Homo sapiens: one gene and its partner. The protein of the gene in region 1 interacts with the protein of each later gene in a pairwise test. Each region holds a gene or a part of one and is shown on either strand. Other genes may lie near its edges.

What was found. Proteins that work in one complex are often made in the same cells at the same time.
Region 2: the proteins of INPP5J (region 1) and EPS8 interact in binary tests that used the Homo sapiens proteins (3 or more experiments, as listed by UniProt).

What each region holds. Positions count from the first base shown.
Region 1 is NC_000022.11:31,117,776-31,126,457, reverse strand, and holds the start of INPP5J (phosphatidylinositol 4,5-bisphosphate 5-phosphatase A), read right to left. Parts: upstream 3,493-8,682; 5' UTR 3,444-3,492; coding exon 3,339-3,443; intron 2,563-3,338; exon of another isoform or gene 2,453-2,562; intron 2,317-2,452; exon of another isoform or gene 2,195-2,316; intron 1,614-2,194; coding exon 448-1,613; intron 165-447; exon of another isoform or gene 83-164; coding exon 1-82. UniProt on the Homo sapiens protein: Inositol 5-phosphatase, which converts inositol 1,4,5-trisphosphate to inositol 1,4-bisphosphate.
Region 2 is NC_000012.12:15,619,354-15,626,029, reverse strand, and holds the end of EPS8 (epidermal growth factor receptor kinase substrate 8), read left to right. Parts: intron 1-1,622; coding exon 1,623-1,803; intron 1,804-2,742; coding exon 2,743-2,872; intron 2,873-4,599; coding exon 4,600-4,713; 3' UTR 4,714-5,896; downstream 5,897-6,676. UniProt on the Homo sapiens protein: Signaling adapter that controls various cellular protrusions by regulating actin cytoskeleton dynamics and architecture. Depending on its association with other signal transducers, can regulate different processes.

The DNA of each region.
Region 1 (8,682 bases):
GTCACCACCGCCCAGGTGGAGGAGGGATGTGACATCGTCTGGGGGCATGGCAGTGCCCACGTTCCATGTGACCACAGTGATCCTGAGGGCAGGGGCATATGAGGGTGTAGTCCTGGCACCACTCCCTCACCCTCAAGCTTCCTTTCACAGGACTCCCTGGGGAACTAAATGGAGGCAGGTGTGGGCCAAAGCCCTAAGAAGGACCCACAGGAGGCCCCGAATCCTGTCCCTCTGCCACACTCTCCCTGGGGAGATCAACTGAGAGGCGGCAAGTTCCTTAGGAGGGGATGCTATCTTCTGAGCGTCACAGAGTGGGCCCAGCAACCCCCTCCCCAAAGACTCTTCCTCAGAGAGAGAAGCTGAGGTAGAGCACACCATCCACCCTGGAAGAATGGCTAACCTCAGAGCTAAGCCCCAGCCACCTTTCTTGGGAGAGGGCCCCCTCACCGGAAGCCGGGGTCGCTCTTCCAGGTAGGCTGAGCTGACCAAGGGGAGGATGACAGGGTGGATGTAGAAGAGGAGGTGGTGACTGGGGCTGGGGCTTCTTGGGCCTGAAGGTTGGGGCTCAGGCACCTGCCAGGCCCTGTACTCTGTGTGCCAAGCCTTGGGAGGGCCATGTCAGGGGCTGGGGGAACACAGGGAGAGCGATTCGGGGAGTGGCTTGGGGAACGGCTGGGTGATCGGGGTGGCTTGGGCAGAGGTGGGGGCACAGTCTGGCCTGAGGGGGCCCCAGGCCGGAAGGTGGGGGACAGAAGTCCAGGGGAGTGAGTGCCAGGCTCTGAAGGACCCTGGCCCACATCCAAGGGCAAGGTCTGGGGTGGCCGTGGCAAAACAGGATCCTCAGGGCTGCTGTGGAGGGCCTCAGGCCGGGCTCGGAAGGAGGGGGAGAGCCGAGGGTCTGGGGAGGTTTGGATGCAGGGTGGGGAGCCTGTAGGACCAGATGTCTGAGCTGGAGGCTGGAGATGCCCCTCAGAAGCAGGGAGAGGTCTAGGGGCTGGGGCATCCCTCTTTCTAGCTGATGTCTGTCCCACAGAGGCTGCGCCTGATGCCGTGGATGCTGGAGCCAGGGCCTGTTCCTGAGTTGGAGACAGAACTGGACTGGGCACCGGGGAAGGGGTGGAGGGGAGTTCTGGGGGCTGCTCCTCAGAAGCCAGGGCCAGGCTCAGGCCAGAGGCTGCCAGTGTTGGCTTGGGTCCCACGGAGGCAGGTGGCTCCTGCTTCTGGTCTCTGGAGGTTGGGGCCAGATTGGGCCCCAGGGTGACTGGGGGAGATCTTGGCCCTGCTGAGGCAGGCATCACCAGCCCCAGGGACGTCGGAGCCAGAACTGAGCCTGTGGTCGCTGGGGGAGGCTTTGGTCCAGCTGAGGCAGACATCACCAGCTGGCCCACAGATGTTGGGGCCAGGCTGGAGCTGCGGTGGGCAGTAGCTGTTTTCTGCCCTTCAGGGGTACACAGTGGAGCCAGGATTGGTCGGGGAGATGCCAGAGCCAGCCTCGGTCCTTCCGAGGAAGCTGACATAGCTGCCCGTGGCCCTACAGGTGCCAGAGCCAACCTTGGTTCCGAGGGTCCTAGGGCTGCGTTCTTCTTTGCTGGGAGCTGAAAACTTGAGTCCACCTTGTGGAGGACAAGTCAAAGATTCAGAGTGACCCTAACCAGGGCATTGGGCCCCAACTTCCATATAGACCCTGGCAGAGTTCATCTAGCTAAGAAAGGCACATCTTTCCAAGGAAGTTCTTCCTACTATCTCACTTCAATCTATTCTGCTGCAGGTCAACTTCTGTCTTGGAGGAGATAGGACACAAAACCCTAACCCCTCCTTTAAGTCTGAAACCTCTTTCACAGATGGGGAAACTCAGACCCTGACTCAAATGAGGCAGAGTGTGAACCTAAACCTGAGGACTTGCCTTGCCTTCCTGGCTGGCACCCACACCCTGCCCATTCGGGGCAGCTTCCCTGGGCAACCCTCCCACTGCAGTCCCTGAAGCTCCCCCAGCCACGGCTACTGACCTGACATCCCAGGTCTGGGCACACTGGGGACAGCCTGTTTCTTTTCTTTTTCTATTGTCAAGATACAGACCTACAGGTGCAGCTTGTTAAATACCTCTCCCTTCCTTCATAATGCCCAGAAACCCTCAGTTCCCCACCGCCCCCTAAACATCCAAATCCCTTGGTTACAGCCCTCTCTGTTCTCTTACCCATTCCCAGAGCTCCACTCAGGAGCAAGAGCTGGGAGCTGAGACTGGCTGTGTAGATTCAAAGCCCAGCTCTGTGTGACCTTAGGCAAGTACCTCTCTGCCCAGCGCCTCAGTTTCTCTGTCTGTAAAATGAAGGGATGGGGTCTAGGGTTCCTGGCCACATTATATTCTGGGGAATCTTCATCTCCCATTGTCTGCATTTATGAGCCCAACATTTGCTAGAATTCCATCTAGCCCCGTTGAATAGTCCATCCTCACCAAGTGTGAATCTAGCATTCAGAGCAAGTCCAGGATTCTAAGTTGATCCTGGTGTCACATCTCTCTGTGCCCAGGTTGTGCCCTCTTACATCCTCCACTTTCTCCCCTACCTGAAAGGACAGGCAAGCAGGTATCCCATTTATGTCCGGCAGGTGGGAGGGGTGGGGAGTCACGGAGTCCTGTAGAGACCTATCCTCCTTCCCCATCTATTCTCTCTGATGTCCCCTGTCTCCAGAAGACAGGATAAAGTGTCCTTCACCAAGGAGGGCAGAAGAATGTCTATACTTGCCCCAGGATGGCCCTAGGTAGGGTAACAGGGCGCAGGGAGGCCCTGCCTCTGGAGACGCACTTCTGTTTCTGTCCCGTATCCTTCTCAGTTCAGAGTACCTAAAACTCCATCTCCACCTCCCTTCTCAAACTCAGTTCTTTGAGGTGGCATTTTAGGCACCCTCCTTGGCTCCAAGTGTCACACTGTGTGCCGGCTTCCCCCCAACTATCACACCGCCTCCAGTACTAACAACTTAGCCATCCCAGATGTCACAGTTTTAGTCTTCAGCGACAAGCCCCCTCATTTTGCATTGGCTCAGAGAGGAAAAGCAACTTGGCCAAGGTCACACAGCAAAGGTGGAGCACAGCTGGGTCCTCTGATACCCAGTCCAGGACTCTCCCAAGGGCTCCTGGAGATGGCTAACTTCATCTGTCTCCGGGCATCCTGTCACTGCCCCTCAGCCCCCAGGGTGCTCTCTTCACCTAGCCCCTGCTCGCTGAGCAGAGGAAAGTACCAGCCCCTCAGTCAGGAGCACCAGGGAGCCTGCAGTGTATGTGGGGGGGGTGTGTGGAACCAGGGATCAGGAAAGCGGGGGGCACTGGGTCTCAGGGGTCTTACCTTGGAGGGTGCCCCAGTTTGGGCAACACCCTGGGGCATGGGCAGGGAACCCAGGCCAGCCCGGGTCCCTGGCCTCCTGCTGCCCCTGCTGCTCTGGCCCTCCATGTCTGCAGCCCCCGGCAGCCTGGACTCCCTTGGCTCCGGCTCCAGCTCTACCGCTCCCGGGAACCAGTGATGTCATCAGCCATTTCAACCTGCTGAGAATTTAAAGGCACAGGCTCCCACTTCCCAGCCTGGAAGAGGCCGAAGCAAGGTGGCTACCCCCTGGGAATCCTTCAAACTGGCTGCTGAGGCTGGAACAGCCATGGAGTGGGGAGGGGAGAGTGTACCCATCTGCCTGGCCCAGGTCCCAACTGGCAGCAGGAAGGAGGCTGTCTGTCTACCTTCACCTTTCTGCCGTAGGCCTGGTCAGCCCTTTGCTCCAGGGAGGGGCATTAACACACCTGCCTTAAGGTAGGACAGGTGGTTCAGAGGTCTGCACCCTCTCCAGGGCCTCAGAGACAACTGAGTTCTTGCCCTGATCCTGTGACCTTCCTGGCTCCCTGCCAGCTCAGAGCTTGCCCCGGCCCCCACCCTTGCCCCATTTTCAGGTCTTGGTGCCACCCTCTCCACTCCTACTGCCAGTCCCAGGCTCTATTCTTCCCAACCCAGAACCAGACACTCAGGCTCCAGCCACTGCAGTCTTTTCCCATCTCAGGCCTCAGCACCAGCCCCTCCTCTTCTGCAGACACCTAGCTGCCCTCAGATGTCCCCACAGCCAGGCCTAACCCAGCCCGGCTTCTGTCAGCTTTCTTCTCTCCAGTATTCACTGGGTGTGGTTTGGGAGGGGAACTTGCTCAAGGTCACCTGGTGAACTGAGAAGGTCTCCTGTGTTTCAGTGAGAAAACTTAGTGACCTAGGATGAGCACAAGCCCTTCGAGCTATCTGGGGGAAGGGAACTTGGGTGGAGAAGGGCCCAGCAGTGGGGTAACAGACTGACAAGAGAGTTACAAACAGGCCTGAGAATTGCTACAGCCAGGACCCAGCCCAGGACATGGTCCCCAACAGGCCTACGGGAGTGTTTGTTGAATGAATAAATGAATTAGAAGAGTGAATGGGTGATGAGGGTCAGATTGGGCTGGGATGGCTGTGGGATCTGTTTCTCATGGCTTAGAGAGGAGTGATCCCACCCACTTTAGGCAGAAAGTGTTCAGAGTTGTGTGTGCAGAGCTCCCTGTTAACCAACATGGAGCATCTGCATGGGCCTGTGCAGTCTCCTACATGAAGGCAGATGCCTCACTTTCCTCTCCTGAAGGCACTTCCTACCTCTGCTTGACTGTCAGTAGGTCTAGTCTGTATTCTCAGGCCAGCATCTCTGCTGGAATTTGCAGGGGCAGAGACTCAGGCCATATTAGAGTGTTGGGGTAGAAAGGTCTTTGGACAGCGATAGTGGAGATGGTGACAGTGGTGACGGGGAAGGCGACTGTGGTGATGGATGTGATGATGTATGTAACTGTGATGATGGAAGTAGGGGGCTAGCAGTGGTTGTGGTGAAGGTGGTGGAGGTGATGGTGATGGCAAAGGTAGAGGTGATGATGATACCAATACTGATGATGGTGTTGTGTCAATGAAAGAGGTAGTGTTGGAGTTGGAGGTGACAGTCAGGGAGGATGTGAGAGTAGACCTGGTGGTGATGCTCAGGTTACCAGAAAAAGGAAGATTCGAACTCATCCTGTCTTATCCTCTGTCTCCTGTTTTACAAATAAGAAAATGGGAGCCCCCGGGCTGGGGGAGTACTGGCAAAGTGCGGGTAATCCCAGCACTTTGGGAGGCTGAGGTGGGCAGATCACCTGAGGTCAGGAGTTCGAGACCAGCCTGGTCAACATGGCGAAACCCCATCTCCACTAAAAATATAAAAATGAGCCGGGTGTGGTGGTACATGCCTGTAGTCTCAGCGACTTGGGAGGCTGAGACAGGAGAATTGTTTGAACCTGGGAGGTGGAGGTGGAGGTTGCAATGAGCCAAGATCGTACCACTGCACTCCAGCCTGGGTGACAGAGAGAGGCCCTGTCTCAAAAAAAAAAAAAAAAAGAAAGAAAGAAAAGAAAAAAGAAAAAGAAAATGGGAGCCCCCAAGACTACCCAGCTTTTCATGCAATCCTAGAGGGAATGATGGGCAGATCCAGGCCTCTGGGACCAGTCCTAAGGCTCAGCCATCTAGGGCTGGGACAGGGGCATCAGTGCCCTTTGGAAGCCAGGCAAATGTCATGCAAATGTGTCTGCAGAGGGCTCCTCTGCCTCAGGAGGGCAACCCAGGATTTCCCACCACCCGCTCCCTGAGCTCAGACCCTGCAGGGGACTTTGTTTCTGGCCCTGCCACTGACTTACTTGAGGAGGTCACTCTGATTCCCAATTTGTGTAAGGGAGATTAAAACAGCAGACACCTCCTAAGTTTGCTGGTGAAGATTCAACAGGATAATATATATGAAATGTTTAGCATAGAGCCTGCCTGGCACAGCAAGCTCTCCATAAAGGTGGCTGCTCTGTATTTATCATCATCATCATCACCACCATTGACTTCAGCCTGCCCATGTGGTGGATGCTGAAACAGGCTGAGGGTGGTTACTCTCCTGGGAGGACAAGGAAGGGGCTCTGAGACCCAAGCCTGGTCTTGTCAGGAGAAGGGGGTAGGGGGCGGACCCCAGCTGAAAAGGGAGTGAGTTGGAGCTATATTTGAGCTCCTGGTGTGATGACTAAGGAGGTTGATAACAGGCTCTGGGGCTCAGGGCGGCAGGCTGGGGGCAGCTGTCAGGGAGAACCGCCCCCCTGGAGACGGCTGTCTCTGGAGGCCCTTTCTGGCTCCCTCCTTGCCCTCACTCTTGGTGGGGGAGGGGGGTGGGCGTACTGAGGCAGGGTCCAGGGCTCATCCAGCCCACTCCTGGAAACTCAGTGCTGTCCTTCAGGCTGTGTGGGTCAGGGATAGGAAGGCAGGATGCCAGTGATAGATGGAGTATCCCAGTTACTCTCCATAGTAACCCTGTGAGGTTGGTAATGAGGCCCCCATTGGACAGAGGAAGAAACCGAGGCCCAGGGATTACACAGCCAGTAGAGAGAGGACAGAGCATGGAGCTCCTGGAGAGGCAGTGGATAATTCTTCCCGACAGAGGAGCTGACTGTTGAACCCCTTCTTTGAAGGAGAGTCCGTGCTGCCAAATCGAAGAAGAGAAACGCCCTGGCTGGAAAGCAGAGAGAACAGCAGGTACAAAGCATGGATGGGGAAGGAAGGTTCTGGCTGTGAAAGGATGAGAAATTTGGACATGTACCCTCCTGCCCTTTGGTTCGGAGTAAACATGAGCAGGGAAGGGAGAGAAGTCTTTCCTGTCTTTTTCCTCCTCCTCTTCCTCGGTTCACTTTCCAGGGGCACCTGAGGATGGCAACGGTACCGAGGGTCTGTCCTCCTTCCTTTCTCTCCCTGGTCACCCTGACCCAGGCCCGCCATGAGGGAGGTCATGCTATGGCTACCATCTGCAAAGGTGTAGAGGGTGATACAGGATATTGTGGGAATGTGAAAGAAGGGGTTATCTGGGAGGGCTTCCCTGAGGAGGAAGTATACAGGGCACAAAAGAGCATTTCTTCTCCCAAGGCTTCACTCCAGGGTTTCTTGTTGGTAACAAGCTTCACATGTTATGTCCCCAGCACTTCATTCTCACCCTCTGAGGCAGATGTCATCCTCACTCCCCATTCTGCCACTCAGGAAATGGGCTGGAGGAGGAGGAGTGACTTTCCCAAGGTCACACAGCTGGGGCTGAGCTCAGGCCTCTCTCCTCCTTCTCTTCGGCTCCCCCTCCTCCTAGGCAGCCCAGCACCCGCTGTCAGCTGCTCTGAAGTGAGTGGCTATTTTTATTCTGGTGCGAGGGGATCTCAAGCAGCAGAGCCATGTAGGTTAGAGGCTCTAGGACACCCGGCCTCAGCAGTCCAGGGGAAACTTCCTGCAGCCACCAGACCCTGCTAAGCTTGCCTGGGGGCTCTCATTTCTTGCAGACTGACTTGCTCTGGGCTCCTATGCCTCCAGAAGCTTCTTTATTGGAGCTCAGAACAGAGCATAGAGCCAGATTAAGCCCTGGTCATGGTCCTGATCCTCCAACTTGAACCCGACTCTTGGTATTGACTAAGCCTCTACTCCAGCTCTTGACTGAGCTCTGACATCACCTTAGAATGAACCCTGACTCTAGTCACATACTGATCTAAGCCTGAATTAGGCTGATCCCAACTTGAGACCTTAGTTCTGGGCCCAGATCAAGCCCTTATCCTTCTCTAAGACTGAGCCTTAGTCACAGACTGAATTCTAGCCCCAGCCCAGACTAACCTTTTAGACTGACTCTGGCAGAAGAGTCAGACTAACCTTTTAACCCTGACTCTGGCAGAAGACTGAGCCCTAATCTTGGTCAAAGACTGAGTCCTGAGCCTAATCATTGACTGAACTCTGACCACAGACTGAATTCTGACCCTGGATCATGCAATTCTGGTCACACACTGAGCCCTAAACGGAAGACTGTGCCCTGAATCTGGTCACAGACTGAGCCCTGAACTTAGTCATTGACAGAGACATGACCCTGGTCACAGACTGAGCCTGGCTCCTGGTCACAGACTAAAGACTAAGCCCAATCATGGACTGAGCCCTGTATCTAGCCCTAGGCTACAGACTACTCAACTAAGGGCTGACCTAGACCCTGTCTGAGCCTGACCCCATCACAGACTAATCCCCAACCTTGGCCCCACTTGAGGAAGACTGCTGGCCTAAATTACATGCTGCCACATAAGAGGCATGGATTATGGGCAGAGATCTGTCTTGGGAGATCTTGGGCTTCTCATGCTGCTGATGCCACAGTGTTCCTTCCTGGTACTGTTATGGTCACAGTCTCCACCACTGGTTCCACTGGCTGGTTGGTCAACCCTCAGCAGCCCAAGCTGTGGCCTTTAGGGGCCACAGCATCCAGGCTAATGCAATGAGAGTGGTTTGGTGGCATCTGTCCAGCAAACAACCAGGGCCCATGGGGTACTGGGGTTTGGCTCTGTCAGCAGCAAGAACGACTCCGTGGGGCCTCTGGCTTCAGTTACTCTGAGGCCCTTGCTGGGGTAGGGGTTGGAGTAGAAGGAAATAGTGGGGTATGTCCCATTATTTTCGTAAATAAAGTTTACTGTTTGTGTTTAGGTAATCCATGCCCATTACACAAAACACAGAAGGAAAACATTTACCTATAATTTCATCCACCAAGAAATAATCGTTCTGACTTATTGGTTTGTTTCCTTATAGATATTTTTTGGTGGGGGCGGGGGTCTAGGCATATATATTTATATATACATGT
Region 2 (6,676 bases), on another chromosome or scaffold:
AGCTTCAGGAAGAAGATCGGGAATTCAGGTTTGGGCATGCTATATTTGACATGCATTTGAGCTATTTAAGAAATACCCAAATGAATATATCAAGTAGACAGCATATATGCACCCAAGTTCCGAGTAAGAGGACTGGAAAAATAATTTGGTAACCATCATCTTTTAAATGGCCATGAACCTAAGCACAGTGGTCATTGATGGAGGTAGTGCTGGCAGAGATGAGTCTCAGGAGTGTCCCCTAGAGCACCTTAATATTACTTAGTTGGAGAGATGAGAATATTCAGAAGAGGATCCAGAGAAGGGGAGTCCAGAAACATGGGAGGAAAATGAGGAGACTGTGGTATCCTGGAGGCCACAGGGAGAAAATGTTTCAAGGAGGAATCTTCTGCTTCAAATGTGTGCTGATAGGTTAAATAAGATAGTAGCTGGGAAAGAATTGGCTGGAGTTTAGCAAAGTGTAGTAGAGAGATGGGGGGAAAAGCAAAATTGAATTTCGGCGACATTAAGAGAAAATAGGAGAATGGGAATTGGAGTCCACTAGTACAGGCAACTTTTCGTGAACTTTGCTGTAAAAGGAGCAGAAAAATGGGCAGTAGCTGGGAAAGGACATGGTAAAAAGGACTTGTTTAAAGGTAACAGAAATCATAAAATAATAGCATGTTTGCAGGCTGATGAACTGATTCAGTGAAGAAGGAAAATTAATAACAGGATAAATAAGGGAGAAATGACTCAGTATTTGAATAGGCAGAGAACTTGAGGCCTAGTGCATACATGGATAGTTAGCCTTGGGAGCAGGGAAACAGCTCTTATATAACATAATAGGAAGGCAGGCAGAACATATGGGGAAAGTGCTGTTAGGAAGAACTACTAGAGGAACTTACGGAGGTTTTCTTCTAACTATTTTATTCATAAATTAGGAAATGAGATCAGCTCAAGGTGAGGATTGGGGAATAGGGTTAGAAGTTTGTAGAGAGAAAGTAGAATATATTCAATACTTGTCTAAGACAGTGGGCAGTTACATGACCTTAGGCAGGACTTCTTGGCCTTTGAGGCTGGGTTATTCTCTGCTGTAGGAGAGGCTGACATTATAGAATGTTGTGTGCATCCCAGGCTTCTACCCACTGTGTGACAGCAGCAGCCTTTCCCCTTTTTCTCCCTCAATTGTGACGACCAAAAGTGTCTCCAGATATTCCCAAATGTCCTCTGGGGCCAAAACTGTCCCCAGTTGAGAGCCACCAGTCTAAGGAAATGTAGTATAATTGTCAGGAAGCATTAACAGCCAAGTTAAGGTTCATAATCATGAATTTAACATGAGATCATTCAGCATTGTTGTGTTATATTCAGCTGTGCAGGTGCAGGCACAGAATACGCAGAAAGTTAGGTTTAACCAGGATTGGGGTTTTGCCAAAGGAGTACAATGAAGAGACTAGAGAAGAGCCAGGGAGTTATTTTAATAATTGATCATGGCATTTATACCAGGCGAGGATAAAAGTGAGGAAAGATGGTAGGAACACTAGACTGTAGGTCCTACTGGGGTCAAGGATTATAGAGATTGGGGTTCTAGAGAGGGTGATGTAATATTAGGGATTTTCAAAAAGAACCTACTCCCTGTTGGTGTCTAGGAAGGAAATCTCAGATGGAGGAAGTGCAAGATGAACTCATCCACAGACTGACCATTGGTCGGAGTGCCGCTCAGAAGAAATTCCATGTGCCACGGCAGAACGTGCCAGTTATCAATATCACTTACGACTCCACACCAGAGGATGTGAAGACGTGGTTACAGTCAAAGGGATTCAACCCTGTGTGAGTCTCTCTGTGAATACTTTGCAATTCTGTGTGTACAACATGCATTGTTTTCAATTTGCTTAGTTAGATGTCACAGATAACTGTTATAAAACATAAGGGCACAGACTGCATACTTTGTGCCATACTCAAGAACTCACTATAGCTGTTCATAGCTGAAAAAGAACTAAAATAAGCATAAATAATTATTCTGATGCCACCCCATTTTCGAATTGGTAGTATCTGTTCATTATTAGTTCTTTAAGCAAACTATTGGCAGCTTTGAGGCCCAGTAGCTTCTTTTCTCCATCAGATTACTGTGATGTAACCTAGGTAGGACCATGGTCTTAGCTGAACTTCCTAGACCACATAGGACATAGAGCATAAGCTTTCCTCCTGCTGCAGGATATAGTGTCTCTGGCAAATAAAAAATAGTGTTACCTAGCATCAATTATAATCTTAATAGAACTTTTCCTTTAATAAACCCATAGTAAAGGTTCTATTTATCTATCTAAAAGTCTATAAACATTTCATATGTATTTGGCACAATGAACTATTAGAATAATACATATTCAAGGGACCTTGACATATTATAAACTCACCTACCCAGCATGATTGAAAAATGAGATACAATGGTTAGTCAATTGCCAGGTTACTAGAAAGTTATCTATTCCTTCTATAAAACACCAAATCCCAAGAATTGGTATTAAACAATGACCCTAAACCGAATTGGCTCATTTTTGATACTTTGTAATTAATAATCTGTATAGCCTCAGGGTCATCATCATGAAAGAAACTTGTCATTGCCCTAACTATAAAGACTGTAGTGGCATTTAATAAGGGTTCCAGGGTATGGAACGCTTAGAAAAGAGAAGTTACTAGCAGGAACAGATAATTTTCTCCTTTGTTTGTAGGCAATATTTTTAATGCTCAGTTTCTTTTTCCTTTTTTTTTTTTTAGGACTGTCAATAGTCTTGGAGTATTAAATGGTGCACAACTTTTCTCTCTCAATAAGGATGAACTGAGGACAGTCTGCCCTGAAGGGGCGAGAGTCTATAGCCAAATCACTGTACAAAAAGCTGCATTGGAGGTATGACTTGTCAACCTAAGGTGGTGTTTTTCTGCAAATTGAAAGCTCTGGAAACAACTATTTATGTCCATATTGGCCAATTTCCCTTTCTTAACAGAGCTGAATTAAATTTAACTCTGCTTTTGTAAATTTGTCACTGAGATCATCAATGACAGTTTCCAGAAGGTTAATTTGTTATAAATGCTCATATGATGTGAAGCTTGAGCACATACTTTTGGAAACTTGACAAAAAGCATAATGTTCTCATTTTATATGTATTGACTAATTCTATAGGAAATTTAATTTTGACATAACAATGGAAATTAGCTTCTGAGTGAGTAAGAGCCTTAAGAGGCCAGAATCCTTGCCTATTCTTAATATTTTTTTTTTTTTGGAGATTCTAATAACGTATAGGTTATAAGATTGTAAAACCCTGGCTGTGTGTGTTAGGTCTAGTAATACATCTCAATAATCGGGAAAGATACATTAGGTAGAGATCACTGAAAATAGAGAGCCTGGAAAAGTATTTAATCACAATGGTCTGTATGAAAGCAGGAGAGTCATGTTTTCTAGATTGCTTTATACTTAAGCTTCCAATATCCTATTTTAGACTTAAAATGTGCTATATACGGGTAGTAGTTTCCAACTGTTACATCTCACAGCTCTTAATAGTTTCATGAAAATTATACTTGGACTCAAATGAAAGAATGTAGGCTTTGGCATGAAATTGATCCATAATCATCTCTAGCAGGTATATTCTATAAATTCAACAGTTAAATAATTCAGGGTAAAATCACTTCATGCGTATCACCCCGTAGCCATTCTGAATCAAGAGAAACCATATTTCCCTTGGAGGTTTTCCCTACAACATTGATCTTGAAGGCTCCATATTAAAGTTTGATTTGATTGCTTTCCATATGTTGAATATTAATAAGGATTATATATTTTTCTCAAGCAGTTTTATTACCACTATATTTAATTTTGTTGAGAGTATATAATTACTTCTTCAAGGTATGTTAGAAAATGCCATATTCCTAAAATTCTGAATTCCTTCATCCCACACCTGCCTATCATTATTGTCATTTGCTGTCACCACCCACTTCAGGATGGTCTCTTGCTTCTTGTTCTCTTCCTATTCTCTGCATGGGAACTGAGGCAGAGGCTGACTACCTGAGGTTCTTCATGTTCCTCAGCCACCTTCTACCACCTCACCCTTTCCTTGGATCTAGTTAATCTTTTAGATTATTTGCCTGTGTTGCCAGAGACTTCTGTTGATGGGAAAGGAGAAAAGCCAGCATGGTCGGAGGGTCAGAACTATATGGAGGGGAAACTGGGTGAATTCTGAGCCCACTCTGGCCTGAGTTAAAATCTTCTAAAGGCAGATCAGTATCTTGTTTGAGCCCAAAAGAGTCCTTTGATAATTTACCATGTTATTATGCTTATTGTACACATTTCCTCTTTCTCTCAGCAAACCTAGAGTACTATACATACATTATTGATTTATCTTTATCATGTTCAAATGAAAGGCCTGGTGAGTGAATTGCCTTAACAGACTTTACAAAATGAAAAATTATTAATGTGATATATTAGTGAAGTGCAGAAGCTTCACTTAAAAAGTAGAGCTGTTAGCTTTCCTAAAGAGATACTAGAAGAAAACCACAGTAGAATTTTATCCTGAGCCATTTCATGATATGACCTGCAGCCTGCACAAGTCAGTAACTATCTTGTCTGAACTGTTTATCTTTCAGGATAGCAGTGGCAGCTCCGAGTTACAAGAAATTATGAGAAGACGACAGGAAAAAATCAGTGCTGCCGCTAGTGATTCAGGAGTGGAATCTTTTGATGAAGGAAGCAGTCACTAATTTGTTTGTTTGTATTTAAACTCCATTGTTTTTGGCATTATTCCAACATGCTTTGTTTTAAGAAGCCTTGAAGGGAATGTCAGATTCATTTTTCTTGATGTAATTTATCACCATAAAAAAAAACCCATGCAAACCTGAGTGAGCACAGGATTTGCTTCTAGGCCCATTATTTTTATTAAAACTGAAAAAATTTAAACTGAATTTTTTGACCTTGGAAAATATTTTTCTTACTTTACCAAGGTGAAGTTTCCTTAATTAGACTAATTATTTTATCCCCATCCCAGGGTATAAACAGGAATTGTTTTGATAGTGGTGGAGTTATTCACTGCAACAAAGCAACAATGTTGTCCATGATTCAAAATCTAAGCAGTTTCGATTTTGCCTGTGAATATGGTGTCTGTCATTCAGGGCATAGCTCACTGTAGGCTAGCCTCTGCTTACTTAAGTCTCTTCTCTGACATACTCAATGGAAGAATATTTAGATTTATTTAAAGTTCTTAATGCCAACAGTTTAAAAAAAAATTAAAACATTTGAATGAACTGTAAAGTACAGCCATACCTTGGACATGCAAATATAAATCTATGGAGCATTCTCAAGAGAGTTTGTCATGGCTCTGTTGATTGCAACTCCTTGTATAGCTTGTATTTTGATTTAGTTTATATTCTGCTTATTATGTATACTGTGTTCTTATATATGAGAAAGCACAAATGCGAAAGAGGTCATGTCTTCTCAAAATCTAGCAAAGGAAGTAGTCTGCATTGGTGTGCATTACAGTATTTTGCTTAATGAAAGCCTCAGTTCTGAATGTTGATATGAGTAGTTAAAAGGAAGTGGGGCCATTTTATGTGTTTATCTGTGTCAAGTATTTCTGGTAATAAGAAGCACTTAATTTACACATATTTTAATCCTGTGAAAGATTCCACATAGAGAAAAGAAAGATACCTAACCTTCAACAAATGTTATTTTTGGAAACACAATTTTTGTCATTAAATGTTATATTATTTCACATATATAAAACAGATGTTATGTAAGAATGTTGTATATTTTAACATAAATCATTTAGAGAAATTATCTAGATTCATTAATTTTCATAGTGCCTTTTTCACATGAGTCAGCTGGAAAGTCTGCAATAAACAGTATTTGCTGTCTGTTAATAAATGGTTTCTGTCTCATTAGCAAAAAGGATCTGTGCTAGATCGGCTGAGGATTCGAGTTGAATGCAATGGGAAAAAGTAGAGATCCACATTTTAAAAAAACTATATATTATTCTATTTCTGAGTGGGTAGAGAAACTCTAGAATACTTTTTTCGGTTGTTTTTCTTCTTTTCGCCTCTTGTTTCATCATCTTTTCCTTCTACCATCTAGTCATATTTGGTAATGGTAATGGAACTAATTTACACTGCGCTTACGATTGCTAAATGCTTCCATATAAATGCTTTCCTGGATATTTACAACAACTCTATATGAATTATTACAGATGAGGAGATTTAGCTTCCTAGAAGCTAATTTTCCCCAGATCCTGAAGGATGTGGGAGTTTCTCATCTTCTATCTCTCGGTCTCTCTATAACACTGCCCTTTGGATAAAGTGGAACAAACATGAGCATGATAAAGGTGAATTAGTTTAGATCTTTTACATTTCATAAGGACTGATACATATGTATAATTTAGCCTTTATTGAAAGGGATAAGATGAAAGAAAATAAGATCCAAAAGTTAAGATAACCTGCGTGTAAAATAGCAGACGGATATGAAAAGAATTGGTGTAATTTACATCTTTATGCTATAAGATGCCAAAGGAATGTATCACAGAGGTAGTAATTGCAGAAAGCAGTCACATCAGCTAAGGATGTGGGGACAAAGAGAAGAGGTTCCTGGAATTTAGAATCTTGAGGGAGCAGCACCACAGAATTTGGATCCAGACATCTGAGGGGTTTGGTCACTGGTATCTGAGGATTTGAGGAA